3 linked regions of the Homo sapiens genome follow. The protein of the gene in region 2 interacts with the protein of the main gene of each other region in a pairwise test. Each region holds a gene or a part of one and is shown on either strand. Other genes may lie near its edges.

Region 1 (5,358 bases), on a different chromosome or scaffold from region 2:
ACACAGAGTTCCAGCTCACAGTCTTGACTTAACTCCACCCAAATATTCCTCCTCCATCCTGCCCCCAGGAGTGCTGAGACTTCCAGAGAAACAGCCTGTTCTCCAGCATCTGGAGCTGGTTTCTTGAGGGAGGTTCAAGGGCAAGCCAGGTTCCAGAGAGAGATGCTCCAGGAGGGCCTCGGTACCAGGACTCGCACGAGGCACATGATACAGGGAGAAGACACAAAACAGGGATGTCCTTTATGCTCCCCTCTCCTGGTGCAGTAGCCAGGCCAGGCCAGGGCAGACAGAAACAGAGTCTCCTGAGGAGTCCTGGGAGCTGCAGAGAGCAAAGATCCAAGTCCCCAGAAGGGCTGGGGAACAGCATCCTGGGGGTGAATCTGATAGGGTGTGAAATGGGATGTGGGAGCTTATTCAGGGGATCTGGTTTTGCCCATAAAGCTCTAGGCATCCAAGGTGCCCTAAGGATGGGAGTGGGTGAGGATGAAGACAGGGACCCTGTGATATGAAAGATCCTGAATTTTCCTTGCTCTAGAGGGGAAATCTCAAACTAGAACAATGAGAGAACTTGCTTGTAGCTTCTTCTTGCTCCCCTCTTTGACTCTCCATAGGACTCCTGCCCTTGAGCAGAGTGCACAATGGATAATAATGCCTATACGTGTTCAGTAAAAGGAACATGGCCCCAGTCCCTGTGGAAATGCCTTTTTTTTTTTTTTTGGAGATGGAGTTTTGCCCTTGTTGCCCAGACTGGAGTGCAATGGTGCGATCTTGGCTCACTGCAATCTCCACCTCCTGGGTTCAAGCGATTCTCCTGGCTCAGCCTCCCAAGTAGCTGGGATTACAGGCACATGCCACCATGCCTGGCTAATTTTTTTGGTATTTTTAGTAGAGATGGGGTTTCACCATGTTGGTCAGGCTGGTCTCAAACTCCTGAACTCAGGTGATCCACCTGCCTCAGCCTCCCAAAGTGTTGGTATTATGGGCATGAGCTACCATGCCTGGCCAGAAAAGCCTTCTAATAACTCCTTTGCCACTAAGGAAGAGGGAAATTGGGGCAGCATGTGCAGAGATCACCTTCTGAGAAAGCTTTCATGACCTGTAGCCTGGCTCAGCCTCCTGCCATGCTCTGCTCCATCATGGCGCCCACCATGGTGTTGATACTGCCTATTTCCCTCTCTGTCTCTCTCATTCGTCCGCGATTGACTGGAGGGTCAAGTGTGTTTTCTTCATCTGGGTTACCCTGGCACCAGCATAGATGTTCCTTCAGTGCCCAGTTGCTGAAGGAATGGACATGTGTATTAATGAATGAGCAAGTGAATTCCCAGCTGGTCCAGGGAAGCCGGAGGGACCTCACAACATATCGGGGCACAGACAGCACTTCTGTGGGACCCAGCATCCCCACCACCCTAAGGGATGGCCAGTCCAGGATCCTGAAAACCCCAGGATCCCTTCAGGAATCATAAGTACACCTCTTGAACACTTAGATCTGATTTTTTGGGTCTTGCTCTGTTGCCCAGGCTGGAGTGCAGTGGCGTGATAATAGCTCACTGCAGCCTTGAACTCCTGGGCTCAAGTGATCATCCCACATCAGTCTCCTAAGCAGCCAGGACTTCAGGTATGTGCCACCATGCCTGGATAATTTATTTTTTATTTTTTGTAGAGACGGAGTCTTTCTGTGTTGCCCAGGCTGGTCTCAAACTCTTGGCCTCAAGTGATCCCCCTGCCTCCGCCTCCCAAAGTACTGGAATTACAGGTGTGAGCCACCACATCCAGCCTGGGATTTTTTTAAAACAATTTTTCCCTTCCCTTACAAGGATTGCCCCAGTCTAAAGTAATTTTCTCTACAAATATAGTAAGTCCTTGAAATAGAGCAAAGTTCACTACAATGTGACCCAAACTTGACTTCTGTTCTATGCTCAGGCCCCTTCTCAAATAAAAGTGAGCAAAACTCCATTCTCTATGGGGCTGGTAAAAAAAAGTGACTGCCTCATGCTCCTGTGGTACTCTTTCTGTTTGGTCTGCTTTGTGCAGTAAGGTGTCACAATTTTTACTTTCCTGCTTTTTGTGATAGTACAGACCATCTGAAAAATACTGTTTTTCGTTAATTCTACAAAAATATTACTCCACATTTTATGTAATTGGAAAATTTATTTTTAAATTTGTATTATTATTATTACTTTTAGAGACAGGGTCTGGCTTTGTTGCCCAGGCTGGAGTGCAGTGATGCCATTATGGCTCACTGCAGTCCCAACCTCCCCAGCCCAAGTGATCCTCCCTCCTCAGCCTCCTAAGTGGCTGGGACCACAGGCATATGCCACCATGCCCGGCTCATTTTTTTTTTATTTTTTGTAGAGACGAGGTCTCCCTATGTTGCCCAGACTGGTCTTGAACTCCTGGGCTCAAGCAATCCTCCTACCTTGGTCTCCCAAAGCATTGAGATTACAAGCATGAGTCACCGCAAAGGAACATAATTGGAAATTTTTGACTGGGCATATTTATTGCATTATTGTAGAATTTTACTACATTGAGCATCTATTTTGTCCCATGTGACTGTGCTAGGTTTATGTCAATGCACAAAACTGATATGGACTCTCCTCTTATGGAACTTACTTTCTCGTGGAGGAAATAGACAATAGGCCATTAAAATAATTGCAAACTGGGTTAAGGGCTAGAAGATATCAAAAGACTAAAACAGAAAAGAACAGGGGGGTCCCACTTTAGGTAGTCAGGGAGCGTTCCCTAAGGAGGCAATATTTGAGCTGGGATCAGAAGGCTGAGATGGACAGACTGGGGGAAAAGCAGTCCAGATGACAGGAACAGCATGTGCAAGGGCTCTGAGGCAGGGCTGGAAAAGGCTTAGTCTTAAATTGGGTGAGTATGGATCCAGGAGTCCTAGAGCAATCTGAAGAAGAAACTGGGGAAAACGGAAGCCCTAGAGACAGTGCTCAAGAGTGACACCTGAGCCACAAGTTCAAATCCCCTGTGGGTCAGCCAGCTGTAGACTATTCTAGACCAGGGGCTGCAGAGGCCTGTGCAGTAGGGGGATGGCTCAAGGTAATGAGAACTCATTAAAAACCATGGAGAGCCCTTCCTGGACCCCAGAGACAGTGCAGGGTCTGCAGGACCTCGATGGCTGCAAATAGATGGGCTTAAGGACACTTTTCCCTCTTCTCTAAGAATGTGGGGTCTGGTTTGGGCCCCTTTTTCTTCATCCATCCATCCATTCATTCATCCATCCATCGATTTATTCATTCATCAACGGTTGTTAGGCACTGGGATACAGCAGTGAACAAGACAGACCAAGCCCCTGACTCAAGGAACTGTTCCCTCAACACTGGGGGAAGCAAAACCCAAATCAAACCTCTGCTCAAAACGAACTTAATGTTTTGATAGAGTAGGTATCAGAGGTCTCCTTTCTGAATAGGCACCCTGAGATTTGGGCTCCTCCAGTAGGTTTTTCATTAGATCTTTTCTAGCAGATTGCACTCTGAGACCAGAGTGCCTTAGCACTTCTGTCCTCTTTCCTGTTGGTGAGAACTTAAACAGAAACACACACAAATCTCCCCTTTTAAGGACTGTTAAAGGCCCACCCACAGACATAGGAACACCCAAACACACATACTTCTCTAATCTCCCTAAATCTCCCGAAGGCTGGGGGTGGGGGTGCCTCTCTGCTTCCCAGTTAGCTCAGGAGAAGCCAGGCTAGGCGTGTGGGGAGTAGCGATCAGCCTTAGCCCCCACCGCCTCCCCGCAATGCTGGGCTGGTCCCTGGGTCCCCGTCACTCCCACACCTGGCCTCCCCAGCTGCAGGGAGTAAACGGGTGTGCTGGGCAAACATCCTTGCAGCTTCCTGCTGCTCCCCTCTGAGAAAACAGACCTTTTCTTCCTCCTCCTTCTCCTCCCCACACCCTCCCAGCTGGGGCTTCTCTGGGATCCCAAGCCAGTTCCCTCTAGAGAAGCCAGACATCCCTTCCCCTTAGCCAGAGGAAGGAGGGGACAGCACACAGACCTAGTGTTTCCATCTGGAGAAACGACCTGCTCTCCCTCTGGTCCTTTATCCCAGTTCTTGGAGCCCAGACCCTCTCTCTCATACTGGCCAAGGGGCTGAAGGACCACAGAGTACAGTGGCTCAAGGGTGGCCACATCAGAAACCATGGGAGAGCGGGAGGGGCAGGGAGGAGATGCCCCCACATGGGACAGGAAGGGCAGCCCCCTTCTGAGGATCTCTGAGAATCGCATAAACAGAATTGCAGCAACATGAAGGTATCCTCATAGAAAGAAAAATAAGGCAGCCCAGCCACCTCCAAACACACTTGTCTTGACTTTGTGTACTCACTCTCCTGTCTGTCCAAGTGCATGCGTATTTCTTGCATAGTTGTTTTCAGGGTGAGCATACATTTTGCATTTTGCACAGAGCAACAGAGCACACATGATTTCCACATGATTTATGGCCCGTATCTGGATTTTTAAGGAGGATAGCGAATATTCTGCTCTCCATTTTCCAGACTGAGAGGCACACAGACGCCATCCCTACCCATCCTTAACCCTGGAAACATTTTCCTATCCTCATGCAGAATGAAGAAGTTGGGGGAAGGGTTGGAATGGGATCTCAGCTGGAAAGAACCTCGGATATGGAGATGGAGACCCCAGAGAAGGAAAGTGACTTGCTATGTTCACACAGCAACTCGTAGCTGAGCAATTCTCACTATCACGCCCATCCAGTCTCTATGGATCAAGCCAACGATGAACGTTACATGCCAGGCATTGTGCTACATAACCTTCACTTTAATTTTCTCTCGAAATGCTTACAGTAATGCTATAGTTCTAATATTCCCATTTTTCAGATGAGGAAGTCAAAGCCCAGAAGAAGAAAAGTCACTTTTGGCCGGGCGCAGTGGCTCAAGCCTGTAATCCCAGCACTTTGGGAGGCCGAGGTGGGTGGATCACGAGGTCAGGAGATCAAGACCATCCTGGCTAACACGGTGAAACCCCGTCTCTACTAAAAATATAAAAAAAAATTAGCCGGGCGTGGTGGCGGGTGCCTGTAGTCCCAGCTACTCGGGACGCTGAGACAGGAGAATGGCGTGAACCCGGGAGGCGGAGCTTGCAGTGAGCCGAGATCGCGCCACTGCACTCCAGCCTGGGCGACAGAGCAAGACTCCGTCTGAAAAAAAACAAAAAACAAAAAACAAAAAAAAAAACAAGAAAAGAAAAGTCACTTTTCTGAATTGTCCCGCTGGCTGGTGGCAGAAACAGAGACAGAATTAAATCTCCTGATTCCCAGCCCAAGAGTCCTTTCTCTCTTTCCTTAGGCACCCCATCTTCTCCCGCTGCCTCTCCTGGCGCTGCCCCAGGTGC
Region 2 (5,358 bases):
AAGATATCAATATTCAAGCACAAGAAAGCTACAGAACACCAAGCAAGGATTGGTGATTGATTTAATCCAAACAAGACTAGTTCAAGCCATTTAATAATCAAACTCCCAAAGGTCAAGGATATAGAAAAGATCCTAAGAGCAACAAGAGAAAGGAAACAACAAACAATGGAGCTCTAGTATGTCTGGCAGTAGACTTAGTGGAAATCTTACAGGCCAGGAGAGAGGGGCAAGACACACTGAAAGTGCTGAAGGAAAAGAACTTTTATGCTACAATAGTATATCCAGTGAAAATATCCTTCAAACATGAAGGAGAAATAAAGACTTTCCCAGACAAACAAAAGCCGAGGGACTTCATCAACACCAAACTTTCCCACAAGAAATGCCGAAGTGAGTTCTTCAATCTAAAAGAAAAGGACCTTAACGAGCAGTAAGCAATTACATGAAGGTACAAAACTCACAAAAGTTAAAAAGCAAGGAGGATAAAGTGTAGAGTTTTTATTAGTTTTCTCTGCTCGTTTGTGGAATCAGTTGTCATCAGTTTAAAATAATCGGTTATAAGATATGACCTGCAAGCTTCCTGGTAATTTCAAATCAAAAGCCTACAAGAGGTAGGCAAAAAAATTAAAAGCAAGAAATTAAAACATACTACCAGAGAAAATTACCTTCACAGAAAGGAAACAGGACGGAAGAAAAGACAGCAAAACAATCAGAAAACAAAAACAAAATGGCAATAGTACGCACTTACCAATAATAACATTCAATGTAGATGGACTAAACTCCACTCGAAAGGCGTAAGTGGCTGAATGGATTTAAAAAAAGAACCAACGATCTGCTGCCTAAAATAAACACACTTCACCTATAAAGCCACAAAGAGACTGAAAATGAAGGGATGGAAAAAGATATTCCATGCAAATGGAAACCAAAAAAGAGCATAGTGATATTTACATCAGTAAAATAGATTTCAAGACAAAAACTATAAAAAGAGGCAAAGAAGGTCATTAGATAATGATAAAGGGGTCAATTCAGCAAGAGGATGTAACAATTACATATGCACCCAATACCGGAGCACTCAGATATATAAAGGAAATATTATTAGAGCTAAGGAGACAGACCCCAATACAATCATGGCTGGAGACTTCAACACCCCACCTTCAGCACTGAATAGATCATCCAGACAGATAAACAACAAACATCAGACTTAATCTGGACTACAGGCCAAACAGACCTAACAAATATTCACAGAACATTTCATCCAACAACTGCAGAATACACATTCTTCTCCTCAGCAAATCGATCATTCACAAGGATAGATCATGGGTAGGCCACAAAACAAGGCTTAAAAAATTCAAAAAACAATTGAAATCATATCAAGTATCTTCTCTGACCACAGTGGAATAAAACTAGAAATCAGTACTATGAGGAACTTTGGAGACTGTGTATACAAACACATGGAAATTAAACCACATGCTCTTGAATGACCAGTGGGTCAATGAAGAAATTAAGAAGTAAATATAAAAATTTCTTGATAGAAATAAAAATGCAAAGACAATATATAAAACCTGTGAGACACAGCAAAAGCAATACTTAAAGGGAAAGTTTTTAGCAGTAAGTGCCTACATCAAAAAAGCAGGAAAACATCAAATAAACAACCTAACAGTGCATCTCAACCAGAAAAGCAAGAGCAAACCAAACCCCAAATTAGTAGAAAATAATAAAGATCAGAGCCAAAATAAATGAAATGAAAAAAATACAAAAGATAACAAAATGAAAAGTTGGTTCTTTGAAAAGATAAAATCAGCAAACCTTTAAGACAAACTAAGAAAAAAGAAAGAAAACCCAATTAACTCCTTTTCCTGTTCCTATGTCAGCAAATGGCTGGCAAAACTATCTAAGCCAGAAACCTGGAATTTACATCAAGAGATTTCACTCTCATTATAATATCCAAATCATCACGTTTTTTACATTCTACATCCTAGATATTACCCAAATTTATTCATTACCTTTCATTTTACAACCCTAGTTCTGGCCTTTTATCATCATTGACAGAATAATTAATCTTAGTGTATGTTTTACTAGACTTTCCTCCAAACCATCCTCCACAAAAATGTCAGAGTATATTCCTGAAATAAAAGTCTAATCATGCCACTGCCTCTTTAAGAAAATTCCATTTACAAAAGTATCAAAAAAGGTAAAATACTTAGGAATAAATTTAACAAAAGAAATGCAAAACTTATACTCTGAAAACTACAAAATATTGTTGAAAGAAACCCTTACCTTTCAGTCAAGGGAATTTTGACCACAAGGGCAAGAAAATTCACTGGGGAACAAACAGTCTTTTCAACAAATGATACTGGGACAACTGAATATCCACACACAAACAAATCAAGCTGGACCCCTTCCTCTCAACAGACACAAAATTTAACTCAAAATGGATCAAAGAGCTAAATTTAAGAGGTAAAACTATAAAACTCTTAGAAGAAAATATAGGAGTAACAGGCCAGGCATGGTGGCTCATGCCTGTAATCCCAGGACTTTGGGAGGCTGAGGTGGGTGGATCACCTGAGGTCAGGAGTTTGAGACCAGCCTGGCCAACATGGCGAAACCCCGTCTCTACTAAAAATACAAAAATTAGCTGGGCACGGTGGCGAGCACCTATAATCCCAGCTACTCGGGAGGCTGAGGCAGGAGAATTGCTTGAACCTGGGAGGCCGAGGTTGCAATGAGCCGAGATCGCACCATCGCACTCCAGCCTAGGCGACAAGAGCGAAACTCCATCTCAAAAAAAAAAAAAGAAAAAGAAAACATAGGAGTAAATCTTTTTGAACTTAGATTGGACAAAGCCTTCCTAAATATGACATCAAAAGCACAAGCAACGAAAGAAAAAATAAACATGAAAATTTAAACCATGTGTACTTCAATGGAAACCATTAAGAAGAATGGAAAGAAAACCCACAGAATGAGAAAAATTTTGCAAATCACATATCTAATAAGGGACTTGTACCTAAAATATATAAAGGACTCTTGAAACTCAACAATACATAAATTTTAAATCTGCCCAATTAAAAAAATATGCAAAGTCTAAATATACATTTCTCCAAACAACAAATGGCCTATATGCATATGAAAAGATGTTCAACATCATTATCTATGAGAGAAATGCAAATCAGCACAATGATAAAAGGCCTAGTTCACACTACTAGGATGGCTATGCACACAAAGATAATACAAGTGTTCACTGACAAGGATGTGGAGAAATTAGAACTCACACACTGCTGAAAGGAATGTAACTGGGACAGCTATTTTGGAAAACAAGTCTAGCAGCTCCTCAAAAAGTTAAACGTGAACTACTATGTAATCCAGCAATATCACTCTTGGGTATATAACCAAGAAAAATGAAAATATATGTCCACACAAAAACTCGCACACAGATGTTCATAGCAGCATTGCTTGTAATAACCAAAAAGTAGAAACAACCCAAATATCTATCAATTGATGAATGGCTAAACAAAATGTAATATAGCCACACAATGGAAGATTATTTGGCCATAAAAACAAATGAAGAACTGAAACATGCTACAACATGAATGAACCTCAAAAACATTGTGCTAAATGAAAAGCCAGTTCCAAAGGGCTTTACTATACAATGCCTTTAGGAAACATCCCAAATAGACAAATCTAGACACAGAAAGTAAATTAGGGGTAGCCTAGGGCTGAGTGTTGGGAGGAAATGGGGAGTGAATACCAATGGGTACGGGGTTTCTTTGGGCAAGATAAAAATGTTCTAAATTTGATTGTGGTGGTGATGCACACACTGTGAATATACTAAAAAAGTCACTGTACTGTACACTTTAAATGGGCAAACTGATTTGTGAATTATATATCAATAAAGTTAGTAACAAGAAAACACTTCAAATGACTTTCCATTGTCTGTAAGATTAAATGTTAATGGTCTGTCTCCCACTCTGACACCCACCCTATGCTCCTGCCATAGGAAACTGCTTGAGTTCCTTGAAAGTGCCACCATTTCTCATCCTTTGGCAATGTTATTCCATCTACCTAGAAGTTCCTCATCTTAGTGTCCACCTCATGAACTCCCACTCATCCTCCAGGTCCAAGGTCCTTTGTTTCCACTGTTTCCTGAACAACGTCCTCCCTAACTACCCCTCCCATTTCACAAGCTTCCCTCCCTGCTCTGCACACTTCTTGACACTGAATCTGTGGGTTTTATTTATCAACAGTGTTGTAAAATTATCTGTCTACATTCCTAAGTAGAAAATTGCCTTCTCTAGGTCAAGGTCAGTTTTTTACCTGTTGTTTCCCTGACTAGCACAATACTTGTATACACTCAATGTTAACAACTAAATAGATCATAAAACTAATTTTGGTATTAATAATGCACTAATCCACAGTGACAAACTATCTGTCCCAGAAGTTATTCGTAACAGTATAAATTTAATCATATATTTGTCATTTGGAATACTGATTCCTTTATAAAATAAGCCCAAAAAATAATACCTCGTTTCTTCACTGATGAAGGAGGAAGGAAGCTTGCTGGCATGGACCTCAGATGAGAATTGTCAGTGGCTTCTAAGAATGGTTCTTTCAGGTGATCTGCAATAAATCCCACCAACCCAAAGAAATGGGTCATAACACTTCAATTTCAAAGTATCACATATTTTCTTATCAAGTATAAACAAATGCCTACTATACATCTGTTATGGTTGTTACATATATCCCTTGTGATAAATCAAGAACTAATTATTTCATTAATAAAATTATTCATTAAGCACTTAGCTGTTAATGCCAAGGAATGACTAAGGAATCTAAGAGAACATTAATATAAACATACATACAACTGAATGAAAAAACAATGAGGCAAATTCAGATGAAATGAAACAGGGAGAAAACCACCTACCTTTCTTCCAAATGTTAACAGACTACTGTCATATTTAATATTTAATGTATTATAATCAATATATTCTTGTAATAATCAGATGAAATACACTACCAATTCACAAACAGCAGGAGGGTATGTACACTAGAAAAGGAATTCGAGGCCAGCCCTACCTCTCTGAGCTTCAATTTCTTCATCTATAAAAATGAAATGGTTTGATCAGCTCATCTCTGAGATACTTCCAAACAAGCTTTAAATTTCTGTGCTACTTATATAGAAAATGAACTGTCATACAATTCCCAGTGTGATCTGGGAATAGAGGAGCAGAAGCCTCTGTTAAAAATTATTCCATTCATATTAAGGAGTAGAATTTTGGTAATCTAACTAATATTAATATAAACCTACCAATGGTTTCTCTCCATAATTTCAGGGCACTCTACTCCAATTAACCTCTGGATTGGAAA
Region 3 (5,358 bases), on a different chromosome or scaffold from region 2:
CTGTGATTTGTGGCAGAAAATCTTCTGTGTGATTACATCCATCTTGTTGAGTGCAGGTCTATATGTATTTCTTCCTGTATGTTTCCAAATTGCTTACTTTCCTGTACTTCATGTGCTTGAAATTAAATGGATAGCCTTTGAATTTCCAGGACAGTTCTTTTTTTTTAAATGAACTTCTTCTAACCTTCAGGTATATTCTGTTTCTATAATGAGGTCCACAAAATACCAGTTAGTGGCTTTGCTACGTAGCACCTGCCAATTTCTTAGTTCCTCCAAGAAGCTTGGTGCAGGCTCCGTTGATCGGAACACATCAAGCTTTTAAAGTTCATCTTCCAGCAAGCTCCTCCTATCTAGTTTTGTCTATTATCCCTGGGCCTGTTCTTCATAACTCCCTTAGAAATATCACTCCTTTCCCATTTTCATGGGCATTGCTGATATGAATTTGTTCCAGGTCACAATTTGGGTCTGCAGCAGAAATGCTTTCAGAACAGACAGCAGCGCTGGGGACAGGATGGGAATCAATGAATGTACAGCTGGATGGAGCAGAGCCCCAGGTGGAAAGGGGAAGCCAGGAAGAGCGGCCATGGAGAACAGTACCAGGACCTCTGGAGCACCTGTGCTGTGACCTTGAAGAGGAGCCACAGTCCCTTCAGGAGAAGGGTGAGAACTCACAGAGTGTGTGGGAAGCACAGTGCATAGTCTCCTAATATTTATTCCAAAAGTAGGGTTAAAAATCTCCAAATTGCCATGGACTAAATAGCATAACCTGTACCAGGACCAGCCCATTCTTTCTCAGCCCTGGTCACAGGTACAGAATAGGCTCCTGAATTCAGCAAACCATGCAACTGGGCTTCTCTTGTTTCTTCATAATTACTCCCTCCACATGCAAATGCATAATTAGTGATACTGAATGAGGGAGATGAAGGAAGTGACAGCAACCTGATTACTGTTGGATAACCCACTCAGTAAGATGTAATTTACTAGATGAAAATTACATTCAAGTACTGTAAATTCAAACTATAGCTAGTCTAACTAAAAGCCATCTGATACCCTTTCAGAACATTTTGAGTGATGGCCTTCTCATCTACATTTATGCATTTGAGTTTTACCAATGGGCATAGATACAGAAGTTGTGACCCTTAAGCCTCTCTAAAATGGGGCCCAGGCCCCATTGAGAAAGGGTAGATCGTTATTCTCTAATGTTTCTTCTCTCTCCTTATCAGCTCAGTCTGCTCCCTGGGTTCCTGCAATTCCCCAGGAGGGGAACACTGGAGACTGGGAGATGGCAGCTGCACTTCTTGCGGCTGGATCACAGGTGAGCTCTGCTTCCCTTGGCGTCTCCTGTGGTCCCATCACTGCTGCCTTTGTATTGCTTTCGCATCAGCCCATTGATGAGTTGGCTCACATGATCATCAATGGTATGTTCATCTTATAACTGAATAGATTCTATCCCTTTCCAAGGGGTCATAAGACCCTTGGAAAATTAAATGGACCTACAAGAAAGGGAATTCCTTGAGGTTAGGGTTTTTTTGAGTTTTGTTTTGTTTTTTGTTTTTGAGACAGAATCTCACTGTGTTGCCCTGGTTGGAGTGCAGTGGTATGATCTTGGCTCCCTGCAACCTCCACCTTCTGGGTTCAAGCGATTCTTGTGCTTCAGCCTCCCAAGTAGCTGGGACTACTGGCACACGCCACCACACCTAGCTAATTTTTGTGTTTTTAGTAGAGACAAGGTTTTGCCACGTTGGCCAGGCTGGTCTTGAACTGCTGACGTCAGGTGATCTGCCCACCTCAGCCTCCCAAAGTGCTGGGGTCACAGGTATGAGCCACCGTGCCTGGCCAAGGTTAGGGTTTTTAATGGATGGCTGTGTTTGTTATCCACAGGAGGATTTTAAGAATAATTAATTACCTTCCTTTAAGAAATAAATCTGGAAAGATTAGGAAAAGAGGACCTGAAGAAAGCTTAGAAGAACCTAAAGTGGAAGGATTGGGTAGATGAGGGAGCATTTATGGAAAAGAAGAGGAAGAAGGTTATAAAGAGGGGCAGAGCTAGAAAGGAAATTAGGTTTAGATTCAGAAGGCAATAGGAGAGCTGTGGAAAGCTAATACTAATAGTGTTAGTACTAATAGAGTACACCCCCAGAGTGTTTATCATGTATGCCATTTTCTGGGTGCTTTATGTATATTAACTCATTTAATTCTGAGAACAACTCAGTTATCCAATTTTACAGATGAGGAAATGGGGCAGGGAGAGATTAAGGCACTTGTGTAGGTCATGCTGCAAGAAAGTGGCAAAGCTGAGTCACTTGGCTCCAGATTCTGAGCTCCTAACCACCATACTGTGCTGCCTAAAAATATAAAGATATGGCCAGGCACGGTGGCTCATGCCTGTAATCCCAGCACTTTGGGAGGCCGAGGTGGGCAAATCACAAGGTCAGGAGTTCGAGACCAGCCTGGCCAACATGGTGAAACCCCGTCTCTACTAACACCACAAAAAAAATAGCTGGGTGTAGTGGTGGGTGCCTGTAATTCCAGCTACTTGGGAGGCTGAGACAGGAGAATCGCTTGAACCTGGGAGGTGGAGGTTGCGGTGAGCCAAGATTGTGCTACTGCACTCCAGCCTGGGCGACAGTGAGACTCCGTCTCAAAAAAAAAAAAATGCTGTGGCAAGGGAGGCAAGAAAGAATGTTTTATCTGTAGCATTTTGTGCTGATAGAAAAGGCAGGGTCCAGTGGAAGAAGGAGGAAATGGTACATAATTTCTTCATAAAAAGAGTAAGGCCAGGGAGAAGTGACTGAGTAGACACCTGTAGCTAAACAGAGGTGGTGATGAGTTTATGGTGCCTCCAGCTTCTCATGGCCCCACTTGGGAAATTCCTCCAGTAACATTACACTCACTCACTCCTTGACCATCTACCTTTACTCCTCTCCTCATTTCCCTGTTACCAAAACTATGTGCCCTACCCAGGGACTTCTGGGCAGCTCTTTTCTCAGATCATTTCTCACCCTCTCTCCTCTACTAACTTAGCCTTTCATACTGAATCACATTTTCCTTAAAAAACAGCTGCTGACAGAAGATGCTACATTTTGTTTCAGGGCCTGGTAACCATCAAGGATGTGTCACTGTGCTTCTCTCAGGAGGAGTGGCGGAGCCTGGACCCCTCTCAGACAGACTTTTATGGAGAATATGTCATGCAGGAAAACTGTGGGATAGTAGTCTCTCTGAGTAAGCATGACCTTCTCCAGCCACTAGAAGATTGGACTCTGGGAGGACGGAGCCATCTGCTTCAGGGCTATTGGATAGTGTCTGTCTAGGACTCTTTATGTGGCAGGGAATCTGTCTATGCTTCCGCTGGAGAAAGAACACTAGGGCCAATCCCAAGAGAATGAGAGTAAATATCATTAAAAAAAAAAAAGTAAAAAAGCAAATGATGCTTAATTGTGGAGTAGAACTTGAGGTTCTTCTTGGTTGGGAATTAGGAGGTTCTCATAAAGCAGAGAGAACTGGAACTGGGTCCTTGTAAACTTGGGAACCATGTAGAGGAAGATAGGGATGCAGGGAGTAGGACTGTCGTAGTAGGACTAAAGTGAAGTTACGCCCAGAAAGGCCAGCTGGGCTGGAAGTATCTGAGTGGAAGAAAACAGGTTCATTGGGAAGGAGAGTGATTTTCTAGGCAGAGAAGAGGGACTTAACAGAAATGGGTGGGGGAAGAGGTTGGGGTGGGGATATGTTTCTTTCTTGACCTTCTTTTGTCTAGAGTTCCAAACAATAGGAAACAGTTTTTTGTATTTTTTTTTCAGAAATATAGAATTGCTGTTGAACTAATTGACAGCTCTATTTTCCTTTCCCATGAGCAGGATTTCCAATTCCCAAACTGGACATGCTTTCTCAACTAGAAGGAGGAGAAGAACAATGGGTCCCTGACCCCCAGGACTTAGAGGAGAGGGACATTCTGAGGGTCACATATACAGGTAAGAACCTAGAATAGGCTTTCAGCCACTTCCTTCACAGTTCGGGACATCATCATTCCATGTTCGTTTAATCCCTCCTCTGCCTCAGAGAGTTCCAGAGACAAAAGGTTTAGAGATTTTTTTCTTCAAAAGCAAGGGAGTGTAATAGAATGATGTAGCAGGCACTTTGTGGATTTGAATTCTGGGCTGTAGTTGTGGGACCTTGGAAAAGTAATAAAACTCCCTTTGGTTTCTTCATCTGTAAATTATTGTGAAAATTAAATATATGAATATATTAGAATATTAGAATAGAACAGTGCCAAGCACATAATAAGCACTCAATAAATGTTAGTTGTTGTTATTGTTGATATTGTTGTCAACCTCCCACCCATTTCAGGAATGCCTTGAGGACTGCCGACAGGTGTCATTCAGCCAGTGACAATTGCGGCACATTCTGTAATTCTCTCCATCTATGCTTAGATAGAAAGATGCTGATTAATAGTAATATACAGTAGTAAATAAATAATGGTAATAAATAATAACAATAACATATACAATTTACTAAGTACTTAAACTATGTGCAGGTTCTGTGCTATCTATCTTATAACTGCCGGAGAGAGAGGTATTATTCCAATTTTACAGAAGAAATGAAGGTTTAGGGAAGTTAAGTGGGAAAGCTGAGATTCCATCTTAGGTAATCTGCCTCCTAAGCCTAGGCTTTTAACCTCTATATCTATTGCACTGTCTTGTACGACATTAGACTATGTTCTCTCAGCCCTTCTGGGGTCAAGTCTGGGCCCTGGCAGGTATCAGACAACCTCATTTGTGACTTAGGCCTCAAGCACTCTCTTGTGACTCTTCTCTTGGGGTTGGTATTTCCCCTTCTCCGCAGGAGATGGAAGTGAACATGAGGGGGATACCCCTGAACTAGAAGCAGAACCTCCCAGAATGTTATCCAGCGTGTCTGAAGATACTGTTCTCTGGAACCCGGAGCATGATGAGAGCTGGGATTCCATGCCCAGCAGCTCCAGAGGAATGCTCCTGGGGCCCCCTTTTCTTCAGGAAGATAGTTTCTCAAACCTGCTGTGTAGCACAGAGATGGATTCCCTGTTAAGACCCCACACATGCCCCCAGTGTGGGAAACAGTTTGTATGGGGTTCCCACCTTGCCAGGCATCAACAAACACACACTGGGGAGAGACCCTACAGCTGCCTCAAGTGTGAGAAGACCTTTGGGCGAAGACATCACCTCATCAGGCACCAGAAAACCCACCTACATGACAAGACCAGCAGGTGCTCTGAGTGTGGTAAGAATTTCCGATGCAACTCCCATCTGGCCAGCCACCAGAGAGTGCATGCAGAAGGCAAATCCTGCAAAGGCCAAGAGGTTGGAGAGAGCCCTGGCACAAGGA

Evidence for each region. Proteins that work in one complex are often made in the same cells at the same time.
Region 1: the proteins of SQLE (region 2) and CREB3L1 interact in binary tests that used the Homo sapiens proteins (3 or more experiments, as listed by UniProt).
Region 3: the proteins of SQLE (region 2) and ZNF641 interact in a two-hybrid assay, tested with the Homo sapiens proteins (one large-scale study listed by BioGRID and IntAct).

The regions. Positions count from the first base shown.
Region 1 is NC_000011.10:46,280,015-46,285,372, reverse strand, and holds part of CREB3L1 (cyclic AMP-responsive element-binding protein 3-like protein 1), read right to left. Parts: intron 1-5,358.
Region 2 is NC_000008.11:125,010,790-125,016,147, reverse strand, and holds part of SQLE (squalene monooxygenase), read right to left. Parts: intron 4,612-5,358; coding exon 4,516-4,611; intron 1-4,515. UniProt on the Homo sapiens protein: Catalyzes the stereospecific oxidation of squalene to (S)-2,3-epoxysqualene, and is considered to be a rate-limiting enzyme in steroid biosynthesis.
Region 3 is NC_000012.12:48,343,209-48,348,566, reverse strand, and holds part of ZNF641 (zinc finger protein 641), read left to right. Parts: intron 1-451; coding exon of another isoform or gene 452-476; coding exon 477-660; intron 661-1,223; coding exon 1,224-1,315; coding exon of another isoform or gene 1,316-1,418; intron 1,419-3,092; coding exon 3,093-3,222; intron 3,223-3,854; coding exon 3,855-3,968; intron 3,969-4,839; coding exon 4,840-5,358. UniProt on the Homo sapiens protein: Transcriptional activator. Activates transcriptional activities of SRE and AP-1.